Regions from separate parts of the Homo sapiens genome. Here region 2 is linked to region 1. A link means that fine-mapping ties the variant in region 1 to the expression of a gene that starts in the linked region. Tissue or cell type: whole blood. Region 1 holds a variant in brackets; the other region holds the start of a gene. All regions are shown on one strand. Distances are from middle to middle.

Evidence for each region. PIP is the estimated chance that this variant, and not a neighbour inherited with it, causes the effect.
Region 2: it holds the start of SFMBT2, and the variant in region 1 is fine-mapped to the expression of SFMBT2 in whole blood (TOPMed, PIP above 0.99).

What each region holds. Positions count from the first base shown.
Region 1 is chr10:7,472,299-7,482,603 of GRCh38, reverse strand. It overlaps LINC02642 (long intergenic non-protein coding RNA 2642), which reads left to right and starts at 9,755. Exons shown (of 4, transcript NR_184109.1): 1 at 9,755-9,834. RefSeq lists an enhancer at 1,508-1,747. The variant C/G (reference allele first, on the strand shown) is at 4,589.
Region 2 is chr10:7,406,886-7,414,885 of GRCh38, reverse strand. SFMBT2 (Scm like with four mbt domains 2) reads left to right here and starts at 3,852. Exons shown (of 21, transcript NM_001387889.1): 1 at 3,852-4,025. RefSeq lists enhancers at 1,763-2,682, 2,683-3,603, 5,955-6,034, 6,082-6,977 and silencers at 3,839-3,978, 6,195-6,534.

The sequences.
Region 1 (10,305 bases):
AAAATCACTTGATCTGTCCCACCATGCTGTTCCTCACGTCTATTGCATTGAGATAACTTCTATTTTATTGATTGTAGATATGGGGTCTTGCTCTGTTGCCTAGGCTGGTCTCAAACTTCTAGCCTCAAGTGATCCTCCCTCCTCAGCCTCCTAAAGTGCTGGGATTACAGGTGTGAGCCACAGAGCCTGCCTGAATTGAGATCAGTATTTTTTTTTTTTTTTTGAGATGGAGTTTTGCTCTTGTTGTCCAAGCTGGAGTCAATGGCGTGATCTCGGCTCACTACAACCTCCACTTCCCAGGTTCAAGGAATTCTCCTGCTTCAACCTCCTGAGTAGCTGGGATTACAGGTACACGCCACCATGTCCGGCTAATTTTTTGTATTTTTAGTAGAAATGGGGTTTCACCATGTTAGCCAGGATGGTCTCTATCTCCTGACCTCAGGTGATCCACCCGCCTCAGCCTCCCAAAGTGCTGGGATTACAGGCGTGAGCCACCGTGTCCAGCCGAGATCAGTTTTAATTCTCACATTCTACTGCAAAGGTAAAATGGTCTTGGGCTGCAGTTCTCTGTTTTGAGACACCAGACAGGTGAAAAGGCAGTAAAGTCCCTGGACTCTCATCACCAGTTGGCTGGAGACCCAGGGTATGAGCCCAGAAGGAAGGAATAACAGCAGAGGCTGGAAAGTGAGCCAGTGAGTGGGGCTGTGTATGTCAGAGCTTCCTGCCATCTCTCCTCTTCTTCCTCTTCATCCCCTTTCCTTCCCTTTCCCTCTTCTTTCATTCATTAACTGGTGAGACAACCAGCCAGCATTGCCGAGAGAAACAGGGAGACTGTGACGATCCACAGGGTGCGGTATCATGTTTGTATTCCACATAGTCAGTATGATTCAAAGATCCAAAAGTTTGACCCAGCATGTTGGACAGGCACATACACAACATACATGCATGCACACGCGTATATTTCTAGTAATTATCCACAGGAAGTAGTGAGTCCACAATGCCAAGAATTTCTCCTTTTCAGTGGCTATTTGTGATGAGAAGCAATGTGCATTCCACTGCATTCTAGCATCAGATTATGGGAGGGGAATGTGGTCATCGAAGGCATGTCCTCTTTCCTATAAAGATTTCATTCAAATAGAGTTCTGCATCTGATAGTAAAAACAAACAAACAAACAAACAAACAAAAAAACAGAGGACAATTTCTTCGCCAATGAAAATGGCCCCCTATGAAGGCATAGGAGCCTATTTCAAATAAGGATTAGGAAAAATTCAACAAGGGAAATGATGCTTTGAGTATGTTAACTTGCAAAAGGAAGAACCCTATTTCCTCTTTTCTAAGAGGAAGACAACTACTTTTGCTTTGATCAGAGTGCCGCTTGAGTGGCCAGAACTGACAAGGTTGGCAGAAGCGATGAGCTGAGAATTAAGGGCAGCGTCTGGGCCTGTGGGAGGTGCCATATGTGGGCTCACATCCACTGAACCTTGATCTCCTTTGCACACCTCCATGTAATTTATAAATCAGCAGTATTCACTCTGCCAAGAGGAAGTCTACAAAAAAGAGATGTGCTTGGCGCTCCTGGAAATGCTTTTACTTTGGGGAAAAAGCAGAGTGTACACTTTGAATGGAAATAAGCAGGCTGAAGCCACAGAGGCCATTTATATGCAGCACCGGGATGCAGACAGGAGAGCGGAGCCCTCCTTAAAGGCGCAGATCGCTGAGAAGGCTCATCTCTCTCCATGCTTAAGAGGCCTGACTAGGCTTGGGTCTTGTTTGATAACCAGGGCATAACATTTAAACATACTTACAAAAATTCTTCCATAAAATCAATTCATAAAAACTTCTAACTCTGAAGCAAAGTGTTAAAATAGGTACTGGGTTACCCGCAAGGATTGTTGTCAGAATAAAATGAAAGGACCTAAAAAGTTAGCATACCAGTTGAAGCCATTCTTACTAAGACATGCATTGTATGCTTGAATAGATAGAATTCAGAGCTAAAATCTAAACTTTGGCCGTCTGAACACTGCCCATCAGGATCAGCCACAAGAGCCCCCCCTCAATTACAAAGCTGGTCCTCACCACCTAGTTCATGTTGGATTTTGATCCTTCTCAGTGTCTTCACTTATTCTTGTTATTTCCAACATCATGTTTTCCAAATCCCAACTTCTTCCCTCACTGGCTGTGTGACCATGGGAAGTTACTAGACCTCTCTGAGCTTTTGTTTCCTCATCTGTAGAATGGGGTAACAGTACCACCTTCAGTTACAGAACACCCCACATCAGCTGGTTTGCAACATGCCCTTGATTTCCCCTGGTTTCTCTCTCGCCTTTTACTCCCATCCCCACCCTTTCCCATCCCGGGTCCCTGCTACATCTCATGACTGAACAACTCTTGCAACCCACGGGGCATAATTTTGCTCCTCTCTCTAGCCACAAGACAAAAAAAATGATAATAAGACTAATCATGTGAATTCGAGGCTCTATGCAGCGTCCATAGCCCACAATTCAGACTCTCCAGGGATGTTTCTGAATAGGAACCCCACAATTCGCCAGATGACAACACGTCACATCCAAATAACCCCTCTTCTTGCTTCGCCACACCAACAAATGGGGTCGTATAAATTTGGAGAGCTAGAGTAGATTTTCTCTCATCACTGCCTCTCTGCAGTTTTATCCACAGGAAAAAGAGAAACAGTTGAGTCTTGGCTACGTGAATTAATATCTCCTGTCTTATTTTTTTTCGTCGTACTTTTTTTTGTTTTCTTTCTTTTTCTTTATCGTTGTTTTTTTGTTTTGTTTTGTTTTTGTTTTTTAGACAGAGTCTCACTCTGTCACCCAGGCTGGAGTGCAGTGGCGTGATCTTGGCTCACTGCAACCTCTACCTCCTGGGTTTAAGCAAATCTCATGCCTAGGTCTCCTGAGTAGCTGGGATTACAGGTATGAGCCCCTATGCCCGGCTAATTTTTGTATTTTACTAAAAATAGTCAAGAGAGGGGGTTTTGTTATGTGGGCCAGGCTGGTCTCGAACTCCTGACCTCAGGTAATCCACCCAACTCGGCCTCCCAAAGTGTTGGGATTACAGGTGTGAGCCACTGCGCCTGGCCCTTGGTACTTTTTAATGACTTAAATAATATAGGCAAGTCTAAGGCAGGATGGAAATAGTTTTAAAACGAATTTTATTCTGAGATAAAACATCTGCTTTATTTTTTCTATAGGGAGAATGGTTTCATAATTGGTAACTTTCAGTATCGCTGAAATTTAAAGGTGGCTTGGTGATGGATTTGTCTTTATTTTAGTATGTGTTGCTTTCTGTCTCTATTTTATGTCTTTTAAGTATTTGATTTCTAAGTGCTATGGTATTTCATTTCCTTTTTAATGTGTCTTCTTAAAAATGAAAGTATATGATTATATAATCTTAGGCAGATGAACTACTTTCTAGTTATGACATCAAAGGACTAAAGTACAACAGAAAATATCTCAACACATGACTATACAAATATATTTTTAATGTCTATCAAATATTTCATATATAAAATTCAGAGGCACATAACTAGATAGGAGAAGATAAATTTCAAGTGTGTAGGAATCAAGTTTAATATCCTGTCAGGTGGTAGGGGCACACACCTGCAGTCCCAGCTACTCAGGAGGCTGAGATGGAAGGATTGCTTGAGCCCAGGAGCTTGAATCTGGCTTGGACAACATAGTGAGACATTGTCTTTGAGAAAAAACAAACCGAAAGCCAAAAGCAAAACCAAAGAGACAGAGAGAGAGAGAGAGACAGACAGACACAGAGAGAGAGAGAGAGCACTCACAAATCAAAAAGATATAAATGAGCATCTAAATAGAAGAAAATGAGTAAAAGACATGAATAAACATTTCGTATTGGAAGAAAATGAACTGAGCAATAAATAGAGGAAAGTATGTGCAATTCCAGGCATCAAAGAAATCTAAATTAATATGAGGAGACAACATTTTTAACTACTTTAATTGGCAGAATTGTTTCTTTTTTCAGTAGTCAACCTAATATTGGCGAGGATGCAGAAAACAGAAATGTTCAGACATCTCGCTACCGGGAATGAAATGCACAAATGATATTAATTTTCTTGACCCATAGTTTCTCATCTGATGCAATCCCATTTGATTGCATATTTGACCTTAAGGAAATATTTGCAAACGTTTAGTTGGAATGATAGTTATTATAGTGTTCTTTATTAAATAGAATAGTTAAGACATAGAAACATCTTAATATCTAACCAAAAAGGACTTGATTACATGAATTATGGTATATTTATACACTAGAAAACTAGGCAGCTATTAAAGTAACTATGATTTTCTTAGTCAGTGCTCTTCAGGTGAAATCGACTTGAATGAGTAAAGTAAGTAAAAACGCAAATTACTCAAAAGTCAAAACAAGCAAACTCATGAGGATGAGAAGTTCAGCCAGTGCACGTGGGGCGTGGAGCAGGTGTTAGGGCTGCCCACTGTCTCATCCATGAACACCTGTGGCATCTTGTCCCTGCCTCTCTCAACAGGTCTACTCTCATTTTCTGCTTCTCTTTTTAGATAATCTCACTTGGCCTACTCATGCTGT[C/G]TCCACTCCCTCATGAATTCCCTTTGCATGGAGCACATTCTTTGGATTTTAGCCGTGTCTGCCCGGACGCTGTTCAACTGTACAGCACACAGGCCTTCATCATGGTCTAAGGGACTCAGCCTTACAGGCCTGTCTCAGTAAGTTCTGGCTGCTATAACAAAATACCATAAACTGAAAGCTTATAAACAGCAGAAATTTATCTCTGACAGTTCTGGAGGCTGGGAAGTCCAAGACCAAGTTGCCAGCAAACTCAGTGTCTAGTGAGGGCCCACTTCCTCGTTAACAGGCACCCACCTTCTCACCGTTTCCTCACACGGTGAAAAGGGTGGGGAATCTCTTTGGGGCCTCTCTTATAAAGGCCCCAATCCCATTCATGAGGGCTCCACCCTCATGACCTAATCACCTCCCAAAAGCCTCACCTCCTAATACCATCCCACTGAGGGAATAGCTTTCAACTTATGAATTTAGGGAAACACAAACAGACCCTAGCAACAGACTAATTCCAAATTACTGGGAGAGAGATTCTGATTGACTCAATTTGAGTCTAATCCAGACCTGGTCCAATCACGGGTGTGGGGAAGGTATTTGGTGGGCATAAGTGAAGAGATGTTCTGAATTGGGATCACATGGTGCATAGGGTCAACTCTTCCAGTTAAATTCAGGGGAAAGGATAGAGTCTAGAGATGGATTTGGCATGTCTATCACACAGCAGAATATTGAACATTAGAAAAAAATACACTCTACTAAATGACAAAAAAAGTTTGCACTAAATATAGTGTGATTCTGATTTTTTAAAAAATATGTATATATACGCATATATATGCTGAGAATAAATTGCTGGGAGAATTCCTTGTCATGCACTTACGAAAGATTTTTCTTTTCTTCTTTGACACAGAGTCTCGCTCTGTGGCCCAGGCTGGAGTGCAGTGGCACGATCTCAGCTCACTGCAAGCTCTGCCTCCCAGGTTCAAGCGATTCTCCTGCCTCAGCCTCCCAAGCAGCTGGGATTACCGGCACATGCCACCATGCCTGGCTAATTTATTGTATTTTTAGTAGACATAGGGTTTCACCATGTTGGCCAGACTGATCTTGAACTCCCGACCTCAGGTGATCCGCCTGCCTTGGCCTCCTAAAGTGCTGGGATTACAAGCGTGAGCCACTGCACCCAGCCAGAAAGATTTTTCTTATTTATAATTTCTGTTTTCTAGATTTTCTGTAATAAAACCTAGCGTGGTGTTTAAGTCATAAGAAAAAATATACATTTTCATAAAGAGAAAATAAGTACAGTAAGGGCACACACATTTAATTAAAATTTTTTTTTATTATTTTAATTTTAATTTAATTTTATTTTTTTTTGTAGAGACAGGCTGGTCTGGAACTCCTGGCCTCAGTCTCTCAAAGTGCTAGGATTACAGATGTGAGCCACCACACATTTTAATTTAAAAAAAAAAAAGAAAGAGTGTAGAATTCTAAATTAACCCTTATTGAAAGATAATTATTCATAATAATGGGACACGATTTATAGTGGGACAGACAACAATATCACAGCGGGTAATATTACGGGTACCTTAAAGCAAGGAGTGCTTTTGCCTTAAAATTCATTGTGTTTCTATTTGGTGGATGTGGGCAGTGGGAGTTTAAGAATACGTTTAATCTATAGGAAAGCTATCAATACTGATATGAGTTTTTAAAACGTTTATATGCCTATTAAAGGTAGTAAGCCAAAAAGCACTGAGAAAATGTGTGATTTTAGAAGAAACAGAGAACTTGGGAAAATGCTGCAGCAGCTGGGGCATGACCCTTAGTCTTAGGAACTAGCTGTGCTATCTGAGAAAAAGCTTTCCCTTTTTAGCTCCTTCCCTGTCTGTCTGCTCTTGAGCCTATGAGCGTCTGTGCTGCCCTGAACATCTGCTTCGTAAGAGCCCCTTGCATTTCTTCCAACACACATTTCAGTTGGCCAGCAAGAACGGCCTTACAATGAAATGAAATTCTCATAATTTTACCTCAAAATGAAATTTTACCTCGAAATGAAATTTCAAGAGATGCCAAAACTCCCACTTCCACCCCATTTGTTCTAGAAAAGAAATATCCATTACACATTTATTTCTCGGAGTGAGTCCTGTCCAGAAGCCGGTATTGGAAACGCAGACATCCCTGTGCAAGAAGACACGCAACCATAAACACTTGAGTGTGAACGCTTCCGTCAGGGTGCGCTCTGCGGTCCTCCTGCTCGAGGGAAGGAGGGAGACTGGTGGCCTTTCAAAGGAAAGGATGCAAGGGCTGAATGGTTGCTAGGACGCCCCTGGGAAGAAACAGCTGGGATCAGCAGGAAGGCACCAGACGCTTGGCAGGAAACGACCGGCGAGAGATGGGGGAGCAAAGGCTCAGGGGCAGAACAGCAGAAGTGTTGACTCAGTGCAGGGCTGGTCCTGGCTGTCCCCAAGAGGTGACCCCTATCTTTCCATGGACTCTCTGCAGTTTCTGACTACCCCACTTCATGTAAATCCTGAGCATTTGGTGACTGAGGGCACTGTCCTCACCGTGGGGTGGACCGGGATAGGGGGGCAACCCATGGGCTCCTTGGCTGCCTCCGTGATCTCCCTGGCCCAGGGCCAGTTGTTCCTGCCGAGAGGCATAAATCAGCAGTTGTAACCTGTTGCAATGAAGGTAGAATCCACAGTTGTTTTTCCTGTAGCCCCCAGCTGGGCTTTTGCTTAATTAGGCTCAGAGGAGCCCGTGAATGATTGCGTTTGCCGAAACGCGTCACCAGAACACGCTGTTCTGATTTGGCTGCATCTGAGATTTTATGTTTGAATATTTTGCCGCCTGGCTTAAGCCAACAATATTTAAAATATTCTTCTTTAACTTGCATCTGCAATGAATGCATGGTCATATTCCTACAACCAAGTCCGGTAAGAGATGTTCCACATTCAATCCAGGTCCAGGTCTTTCAGTCTAGTCCAGGGTGGGTAGATTAGGGAGGCAGGGTAGAATACAGGGACAGTGGCAGAGGTGGGGACAACAGAGAAACCCCCAAAGAAAGGCCATCATCTAAAGGAGGTGACTGCCTGAGGTCAGGAGTTCGAGACCAGCCTGGCCAACATGACGAAACTCCATCTCTACTAAAAATACAAAAATTAGCCGGGCGTGGTGGCGCACGCCTTCAATCCTACCTACTGGGGAGGTTGAGACACGAGAATCACTTGAACCCAGGAGGCAGAGGTTGCAGTGAGCTGAGATCACGCCACTGCACTCCAGCCTAGGTGACAGCGCGAGACTCCACCTCAAAAAAATAAATAAAAATAGAAAATAAAAAAGGTGACTGGAGGGTCCCTGTGAGTGAGGCTGGGGCCCGTGAGAGTAGAGCTCAGTTCTTGGAGACTGAAGACTCATGGGAGGAACTCAGCAGGCAGAGGCCTCAGGGCGCTGCTGGGACTCTCAAACCACATTCTGCTACAGCCAGCTGCACCTGGAGGGGAAAGAGAAGTCCATTCAAATAATCAGAGATGTCCTGGGCTCATCGGGACCACTCAGCTGTTGCCTGTCCTAAGAGTACTTAGAAGAACTTGCAGTGAAATTTCCAAATAGAAGGGGGGGGGGGCGTAATTAATTATCCATCCCTTTGGGATATTGGAAAAATGCCCTCGGGTTATCCATTACCCTCTGTTAATCAGGACGGACTAGAATTCCATGATAATAAACAAGGCCCCAGATCTCACTGGTTTAAAACAGCAAATGGGCTGGGCGCGGTGGCTCATGCCTGTAATCCCAGCACTTTGGGAGGCCGAGGTGGGCAGATCACCTGAGGTCAGGAGTTCAAGACCAGCCTGACCAACATGGTGAAACCCCATCTCTACTAAAAATAAAAATAAAAAAAAATTAGCTGGGTGTGGTGCCAGATTCCTGTAGTCCCAGCTACTCGGGAGGCTGAGGCAGGAGAATCACCTGAACCCAGGAGGCAGAGTTTGCAGTGAGCCGAGATCACGCCATTGCACTCCAGCCTGGGTGACAAGAGTAAAACTCTGTCCCCCTCCCCCAAAAAAAATTAAAAAATTAAATAAAACAGCAAATGTCTGTTTCTCATTCATGCCACATGGCCATCACAGGTTAGCTGGTGTGTGCTCTGGTGAGGCACCAAGGTCCTCCCCATTCCTCCCTCCCCCCAGCCCCTGGCAACTGCTAACCTACCTTCTGTCTCTATGGATTTGCCTATTCTGGACATTGCATATAAATGGAATCATAATATGTGGCTTTTTGTGCCTGGCTCCTTTCCCTGAGCAGGGTGTTTTCAAGGTTCATTCATGTCATAACATGTCTCAACACTTCATTCCTTTTTAATGGCTGAATAATACTCCATTGTTTGAATATACCACATTTTGTTTATCCATTCATCATTTAATGGCCATTTGAATTATTCCACTTTTTTTGTCTATAATGAATAATGCTGCTGCTATGAGCAGCTTTTGTGGCATTCCATATGTTTTTGTATGTTGTATTTTCATTTTCCTTCATCTGTAAGTATTTTCAAATTTCCCTTGTGATTTTTTTTCTTTGATTCATTGGTTATTAGGAATGTATTGTTTAATTCCACATATTTGGGATTTTCTCAACTCTCTCTGCTATTGATTTTGAATTTAATGTGAAACTTTTCACAGTTGTTGATTTTGTACAAACCTACCAAGAAGTAGACATTGTGGACAATTCCACGTGACCCCCATATTGACCACCGATAGTTTCTAAGTGCTTTATGAACTTGCAGACTTGTGTTTTATTCTTCTTTCTTTTCTTTTTCTTTTTAAGAAACATATGATGCAGATACATGGGTGGGCTTATTAGTTCCTTATTTGTGTTAGAATAATGACCATCCCCAAAAGATGTCCATATCCCAGGGCCTGGAACCTGTGAATCTGTTACCTTAGATGGCAAAGGGACTTTGCAGATGTGATTGAGTTAAGGAACTTGATATGGGGAGGTTATCCCAGATTATTCAGTGGGACCCAGTGTAATCACAAGGGTCCTGATAAGAGACTGGCAGGACAGTCAGGGTGAGAAAGGAGATGCAGAGGCAAAATCAGAGGCTGTAGTGACGAGCTCTGAGGATGGAGGAGGGGGCTACCAGCTAACGAACGTAGGCGGCCTTTAGAAGCTGCAAAAGGTAAAGAAATAGCTTCTCCTTTAGAGCCTCAAGAAGGAATGAAGCTCTGCCAACAGTTTGATTTTAGCCCCAAACTCTGATCTTCAAAATTGTAAGTAAATAAATTTGTGTTATTTTAAAAGCCGCTAAATTTCTGGTAATGTGACAATAGAAAACAAATACACCAAGGAATGAATGATTTCATTTTGCAGTTTTTTTTATAATTCTAGCAGTTTGGCAAAAGAGAGTAAGGGCTAAACACCTGGCTTATGGAGTCAGATGACCTGAATCCAAACTCTGGTGAGAAGCTCTATGAATTGGGCATATTACTTAACTTGCTTAGGTTTCAATGTACATTTTTGGAAAAATGAATCCATCTCGTAAGATTGTTGTAAGGATTAAATGAGTTACTGCAGTAATACTGGTACAACAGTGTCTGGCTCACAGTAAACACTCAACAAATTTTAGTTGATTTATAGAACATGTTGTTGCACATTTCAGCAAATACTAGAGCTAGGAAGTAGAATTGTGTTGAGAATTCTGCATTGCTGTGTCCGGATTGCTGCTGTCACAGCCATATTAA
Region 2 (8,000 bases), 67 kb after region 1:
CTGAGGTCACTGGACTCCCAATACATTAACCATTAAGTGCTTTAATTGGGGATAGAAGATAAGGAAAAAAGGTGAAAAAATAAAAGACAGAGTGTATTTAGATTTACTCTTTGTGACCTTAGGATCCTGATGGAAAAATACTATCTTATGTAGCCTAAGAAAAAACAAGTTTTGGTTTCAAGGCTCCAGTAAAGAGAAGGTTGTACAAATTCTTCAAATATTTGGTTCTGGCCTCTTTTTCTCCTCCTTCTGCTTTCCTGTTAGGCTAGTATGTCTAATGGTTCATTAGGGAGTCTCTATATTAAGAAAGCATAATGGTTTATCTTCTATTTTCTTTGGTTCATTTCCTTTTCCCAGTGGGAAGTGATAACTTAAACATGGACTAGGTATGTACAAATTGAACATTTTTCTTGGGTACGACTAATGCAACAAGATTTAAGTAATCACATGTCCTAAATATAAAGAGAATAAATAGTACACATATAATTTTTCAACTCCTCTGCAATAGTTTTTGTGATGTAATGCTTAGGAATATAAGGAAAATGAGACAAAAACTTTTCAATTGTTATTTTATATTTCTAATTTGTGCTGTATCATTAGACAAATGGAATAGCATCTAAATATTTTACAATTAACCAATTAGCCCCATTTATGTTAAAGAATTCCAAAGTCCCTGTGAAGGGATAACTTGATCTGTAGAGTGATGAAATTCATGGCTTAAGCAAAGTTTAGGAGTGAAATAATATCTATAGTTAGTGTGATCAAAGGCTTATTTTGGCCAAGATTTTTAGTAAATATTAACAGTATAGAGAAAAATCTTGTGTTGATAATGAGATTTTCATGACCCTGTTTGAGCTGGAGTGCATAAGCCTTCTTTACTTTAAAAAAGCAGTCACAATTTTTGTCAGTGCGTTATCCTTTGCTGACTATGTGGAATTTTTTCCTACCTTTAATTGATTTAGGGTGCAACCTACATCTGGGTATATATCCCTAAAGTGTCTGGTTCTGAAATAAAAATGAAAGTGGAAAGGTATTGAAGTGGGATGAAGGGGCCACTTGAATTGCCTCAGGGAATCTCCTAACCAATTTTCATTTGCCTCATTGGTGCCCTTGGATAAAAGAGAATGGAGGTCGGTTGCAGAAAAGAAAATCAAGGAATCTTCAAAAAGTCACGTGCAAAAAGCAACACAAAAATAGGAGGGAAGGAGTTTTTTTTTACAATAACAATGCCACCTTTGTGTGCTGCGACTTCCTGATTATATTTCTTAATCACGATAGGTAACCCTCCCCCAAAATCACCATTTTGTGGACCCAGGAGCAAAATTATACGGGGTCTACGTACCCAAAACATTAAAAAAATTCAACTCCTTCGGAGTAACCAGGTAAGATAATGAACGCAGTCATACACTGTTTGGGATCAGGTGTTCTTCTGCATTTGCTTTTATTTGGATGAAAGAATGTTTCGTGCACAATGATGACCTAAAACTGGTAAACAAGCCTGGAGAGAGCGCGGTGGCTGGTTGCAGCTCACGTCTCCACGACTCCTGCAGAAGGAAATTACGTTCTCCCCTTCCCCCCCGCACCCCTACCCCTACCCCAAGCCCCCGGGAAGCCCTGCGCTGGCACCAGGGCAAGCGCCTGTCGGCTCCCGGGAGCTAAGCGAGGCCGCGCGGTCTGGGACGCAAATGGGAGGGAGCAGCCGCTGTCGCCCTGCGGGGCCAGGGCCACTGGGTAGGCGCAGCGCGGGCCAAGAGTGGGAGGCTCAGGGCAGGGGATCCGCACTCGGGGCCATTCCTGCCGCGGCGCGCCCTGCGCTTCAGCAGTGCACAGGGTGGGGACCCCTCGAGGACAGTGGTGCGCCGACGGGTCTCTCGGCCCCTCCCTTTCCACAGGCCCCGCTGTGTGGTGAAGGAGCCAGAAGAGGCGACTTGGGTGTTGAGACCCGGGGCCAAACCGTGGAGAGTGTCTGGAGCCCACACTCCAGATTTCTGGACGCCGCAGTCAGTCCAGCAGGTTCTACCTGGAGCCGCCTCGGGGCTCAACCGGGAGGCAGCGGGGTGCAGGCGAGAGGGTTAATGCGCCCGGTTCGGTTGGTTTGAGGAGTCTCTGCTTTCAGCGACCCACAGGGCAGAGAGCCCAGGGCTCCGGCTTGATGTCCCCAACAGCTGGGGACTGGAGAGCTGGAGGGGTCGCAGACTCAGGCTAGAGTTTAAAGTGCGCCGCGCGGCGAGTCGCTGGACTCTTCTGGGTCTCACGTGGCTCCTGTGTCACATGGAGTGACAGGCCGGCGGAAGGCGCTTTAGTCGTCGCCCAGCGTTCTCCAAGGTGTAAGGAGGCAGGATCTTCCCATACTGGCGGCGCAGGGGGCCTCACGGCTGCGGACGCCCGCCCTGGATCTCTCAGCTCGGCAGATCCTTTGGGTGGAGAGGCGCTCTCCAGGGTCGCGGCGAAGGAGAGCGGCTTCTCGGCACGTCCCTCCGTATTTCTTCTAGATCAGCTCCGGCCCCACCGTCCAGGAGAGGGCCCGCCTGAGGACCTCTGTCTGTGCCGCGCGTGGTCAGCCCCGGTCCCCTCACTCCATGGCTGGCCCCTAGCCCTTCAGAGCGGACACCTCTCCTTAGGGATGCAGGGCGAGGAAGGGCGGGTGGAGCTGCGAACCCACGGGGACCTGGAGGACCTCTTGGCCCCCTGGAGAGGGGTACTATGAGAGGGATTCATGGGACACAGATTTGGGGGACTGGGTAATTTTACCCCCTTTGGCAACCATAAAAACCCTGAGCAAACGTGTCCATTCGCTATTTCGCAGAAATATACAATGCAGGCCCACACAGGCATCTCTGCGAGGCCCCCTAGTTAAGGGCGCAGCGTTCTTCGGAAGCTCTTGGTCTTGCTACCAGGGCGTCACCGGCTTTTCCGCACTGGGGACATTTCGTTTGGGCTCTGCGCAGCCGTTGCACCTAAGGCCCTGGGAGCTCCGCGTTCCTCCCCAGGCGCCCGGGACAAAGTGCCCGAGGGCTCCGCAGACGTCCAGCCCTGCCCGGGGCTCACGGCCGCCGGGGCTCTCCAACGGACCGTCGAGGGCCACGTTTTGCTGGGGTGTGAGCGACGATTCTTTTCCCGCCCTATGAGGCCCGCCACTAGCTAGGTGCCCCATGAGACGCCGTGGCGAGCACGGCTACCTGGCAGCTCGCCCGGGCAGCCCCAACTTAATTTCCTGCCCCTCGGGGCACCTTTCCCTCGAATAGCTCTCCTCGGCCCCTCCAGCCCTGCCCAAGGGGCCTGGAAATGTTCGCAGCTTCAAGAAAGGCTCTATTTAAGCACAGGATGGGGTGGGGCGGGCGGGGCCAAGATTGCCCTGGGGATTGAATTTATCTCCGCTCCCAGCGATCCCCGGCGGATAAAGCGCAAGTTTGTGCACACGGTCGACTGAGCCATTGGAAACCCAGCTCACGAACCGCAGCCAGGGAAACGGGAGTTTGCCCAGTTGTCCTTGCGGAGGGGTGTGCGGAAACGCCCGCGATGGGAACTTTCTGCAGATCATGTATGGAGGGAGCTCACAAAAAGGAGGAAGGGGAGCGCGGTGGGGAGGAGGCCGCGTGGGCGTGGAAGGTCCCAGGGTCCTGGGGGTGCCCGCCTGCTTAGGCGCAGGGAATGGCGCGGAGCTGGCTGGGGAAGGAGCCGATCACGTCCCGCAGGCTAATTGGCTTAAGAAATTTTGCAAGCGCTGGAAAAGGTCGTTGAAGGAGTTCGCTGCACGCGCACGCACACACATACACACACACACAAAATCTTAAAAAAAAAAAAAAAAAAAAAAAAAAAAGAGCGCCGAGCATGCGCACAGAGAGGATGCCATATTGGAATGAGCTGTAGTGGGAGCCGGAGGACCGGAGCGGGCGCGCGAGGGAGGCGGCGGGCGGGGAGCGAGCGGGCAAGGGCGGGCGAGCGAGCAAGCGAGCGAGGCCGGTGCCCTCCCGGGCGGCGACCGGGGCCTGGGTCCACGCCGAGGGCAGGACGAACTTCACCAGGTAGGACGCCGCGCCGGCTGCTGTCCCCGGCGCCCAGGCTGGCCGGAGAGCAGCCCTTCGGCCCGCAGGTTGAGTGCGCTGGTCAGGGGCTTTTTCCAGCCTAGGAAAAAAAAGGAAAAAAAAAAAAAGGAAGGAAGCCTGAGGGAGCTGGGGTTGGAGGTGGCGGGTGGGGGAAGGCTGGGGAGGGTGCAGGGGAGCGAAAGAGAAGGGCAGGAGAAGAAAGCGACTGCACTTGAGCGAAGCTTCAAACTCCTCTGTGCGCTCCAGGTTGTCATTTTTGCTTCCCGGGTCCCCTTCGCCTGCGTCTCCGGGCTCGGAAAAGCCGAGCCGTGCGGGAGTCCGTCCGGAGTTGCAAAGTGTCCTCCTTCCCCGGGCGCAGCCTGTCCCCTCCCGCCGCCCACCTTCCTCGTTTCTGCACTCATTTTAGCGACGCAGCCGCCGCTGCTACCTACCCCGCGCTCCCGCGTCTCCTCCGCGCTGGGGTCTCCCCTTTCTTTTGGTTTGGGTGGGAGAAAAAGATGGTGAGGACGGGGAATCGGAGACCGGCATGGGGGTAAAAATCGTGCAGACATTCGGAATCGCTCCCTTGGAAACATTTGCCTGAGCAACTGAAATAAAATTGGCAGTAGTAGTTTTGGAGCGTGCTCCAGCGAGGATGGTCTTTTTGTTCATTATTTTCTCTTTAAAGTAATATCCTGTCACTTAGGGGCTTTCCGGTTGTCTCCTCTTATTCGACCCCCTTTCAAAATTGCTGACTTGAGCTGGTTCTGGAGTTTATTTTTTAATATGCGTGCGTGGGTATGTGTATGTGTGTGTATGTTTTGCAGAAATCCGCCAAAATGCAACTGTAGGAACTGCGAGATGTATTTATTGATTTTGACCAGGGGCGGTGGGAAGGGGCTGGAGGGAGCTGGGGGATCCTGGAGGGTGGGAAGTGGCTGATTCTCGGTGGCCGGACACTCATCCAGAGCCTGATCCGTACTCGTGTTTTCTTGGAAGCGCCACAACTGCGGGGAAGGAGTCTTTAGAAACCGTGCCAGTTTCAATATGGCGGGCTAAGGTGGCTTTTAAAAACTGAAAATAAAGGTTTTGAGGTGGGAAAAAACCCAGCTGAAGTTTCCACCCCTTAGTTTCGACTCTCTTTGGCTACCCCAGGAAGCGCTTTAGCGAATTAAGTGGGGAAAAAAAGAAGGAATGGGCTGTCCGGTTTTTTTTTTCCGTGGTTAGAGTCTGTGTGTCAAGTCCATTGCTAGGGGGGAAAGGGATGGAGAAGTGCCCCTGGCCCGGACCAGGGCACCGAAACGCAACTGTCGTGTGTGCCTGTGGATTAGTGTGCAGGCCTGCGTGTGCGCAGTTTTTTTGGGTGTGTGTGTCAAAGAGAACCACCCCGAATGTGTGTGTGCGTCTTGGAACCAGACCCTGCCATGATTTGACGTGACAAACTGCGGACACGTGGTGTAAAGTACATGAGGGCAGAGGGAGTGATTTATTTTGTCTTTCTAGGAGACGAGCTAGCTCTCGCCTTGTGTGTGCTGGATCCTGCGCGGGTAGATCCCCGAGTAGGTGGGGCGAGGAGGTGCTTATTAAAAGGACTAACTGTCCCGGGTATTGGGTGCAATCGGGCTGCAGACGCCAGCCGGATTTCGTGTGTGCAGGGGGCGCGCTGCACTTAATAGTGGGCTCCTGCTTTCCTCCACGCCGCTCTGGGGTGGGAGGTGGGGGACCGGGACCGAAGCTTGGAGAAGACCAAAGTGGTGGTGGTGGTGGTGGGGTGGGGCAGAAGGGCGGGAGCGCGCGGCTCTGGGAGACAAGCACGTAGGGTCGAGGCGAGGGGTTGCCTTCCTTACTTTTGGGTTTCGCGCTCTAGGGAAGGTGGGGGATGGGGACAGCGTTTGGGGAAGAAATTGTCCCTTGCTCGGCTTAGGAACCCTCTCGGCGCATCGGAGAGGGGCATCTTCTTGTCTTGGCGGGCATGGAGGCCGGGCAGTCGCCGGGGGATGTGAGTGGGCGGCGAAGTGCGGGGGAAAGGTCGGCGTTCCAGGGCGGGGAGGATCTGGGAGTGGAGTTCGGAGACAAAATCGGGGTCAGGCAGAGGAGCCAGAGGGAAAGCCAGCAAACGCGAGCTCGGGTGAGAGCCACCGGAATGCGGGAACGCAGCTTAGCCGGGAACAGGGTTCCCGACAGGGGTCGCCCGTGGCCAGGACGCGGCCGCTGAACAGAGGTCGCGCGGCGGTTCCTGCCCGAGGGACCTCGTGGGCGGGGGCCACACGGAGGCCGCGCACGGTCCCCGGGGCTGGCGGGGGCAGGTGGGAGGACCTCCTCCGGGCCCGCGAACCTGATCTGGCAGCGGCCAGGTGCCTGGAAGCGTTTTTAAATGATAGGGTTACAAAGACATGTTGGCCAGGTTTGTAGTTAGCGCAGCAACGTGGTTTGCAGGAGCGCAGAACGAGGCTAGACAGGGTCACTCGGACGCCGTGCTGTCAGTGGGTGGGGGCCGGGAGCAAGCGGCACTGGCTTGGAGACCCCGCGGCAGGTGACCCCTCCCACCTGGGCAGCGAGGCTGAACGATGGCGACACGCCGGCCAGGACGCGTCCGTGGCTCCTCCAGCCTGCGTTTGGGCGCGCCCTCCCGGGGCCGGCTTTCCCATGGGCCCCGCGAGGTGGGGAGCAGCCTAAAATGGCTCTGTGCTGCGAAGCTGCAGTTTCAGCCGCGAACCCCTCCCCTTGTCCTCCTGACGTCGCCGCTGACAAGCGCAATTTGCTCCAAGGCCCCGAAACCCGCGATTTTGCACGAGGCCGTGCCGTGGAAGCGGATGTACAGTTGATTACAAAGAACATTCCACAGGGTTCTCGAAGGGCCCAAGTTTTTCCTTCTGGTGGGGAGGAGGGAGGAGCCGAGACTGGGCAGGAGCCCGGCCGACCACCGCTCTGGCACCTAGGGGCTCGGGGCGCACCAGTAGCTGGGGCTGGGGACCTGGATGCGCGAAAAGCCGAGGGAGTTCCCGGGGACGCGGATGGGGACCATTCGGGGCAATAGCCACGGACACCGGTGCTCGTGGTTGATGGCGTTTGTGGTGTCCGAGAATCCCGGGACGACGCTGGAAAGCCTGGGAGACCGTTCTCAAACTTCTGGAGACCAGCTCGCAGTTTCGCTTTCGGAATTTTCAGGATCTTTGGGCCTTTAAAGTTGGGTGGGATTCCAAGAAGGCAAGGCGAGGCTCGTGGCCCTGACGATCGGCCGCCCGACTTCTCGCTCACCCCAGCCTTCTCTACCTTGTCTCCCTGAACCTTGCCGAACCGAGCCGGGTTTGGGGTTCCGGGGCCCCGCGCACCAACCCCAGCCGCGTCCTGAGGGCTCCCGCAGCACAGCCGCGGCTGATCCGAGGCCATTGGTGGGAAACCAATTTAGACGAGGCCGACCCCTCTTGGATCTGGCTCGGTTGCCGCTGCCCACCACTCTCCATCCCCCCTCCACTCTTGCACCGTAGAGAAGGGAACTGGGAGACCTACTAGCGTGTCTACACCAAGGGAAAGAACCCATGTTCCAGCAGGTCGGAGAAAAGGAGAAAACAGGCTTAAATGTGGCCTCGTTTCCTGGGGAGGCTGTTGGGGGTGGGGAGGGAGTTGAGCGGGTAAGTGGGGTGGGGGAGGGGAGAGGCGTTGTTGCTCAGCAGGAATTGTTCCCTAGGCCCGCCCTGGAGATAGGAGGTCTCCTGCTTTTTCCCTACTAAGCATTAAATTTGCACACACTCTGCTTTCTCCCTTCCATAAATAAATACCGTCTCAGATCTTATCTTTGCTCTTGCTGGGACCAAGCTGCCTGCCTGCAAGAGAGTGGGAGACACCCACGCACTTCTCCACTTCCCTCCCCCCCCGCCAACCCTCTAGGTCCCCACCAAAGAGTTTACTGCTTGCAGGACCCATTCTTGGGCCGGTGCAGAACACTGCCCCGAGCCGGGGGTCTCGCAGCCCCCA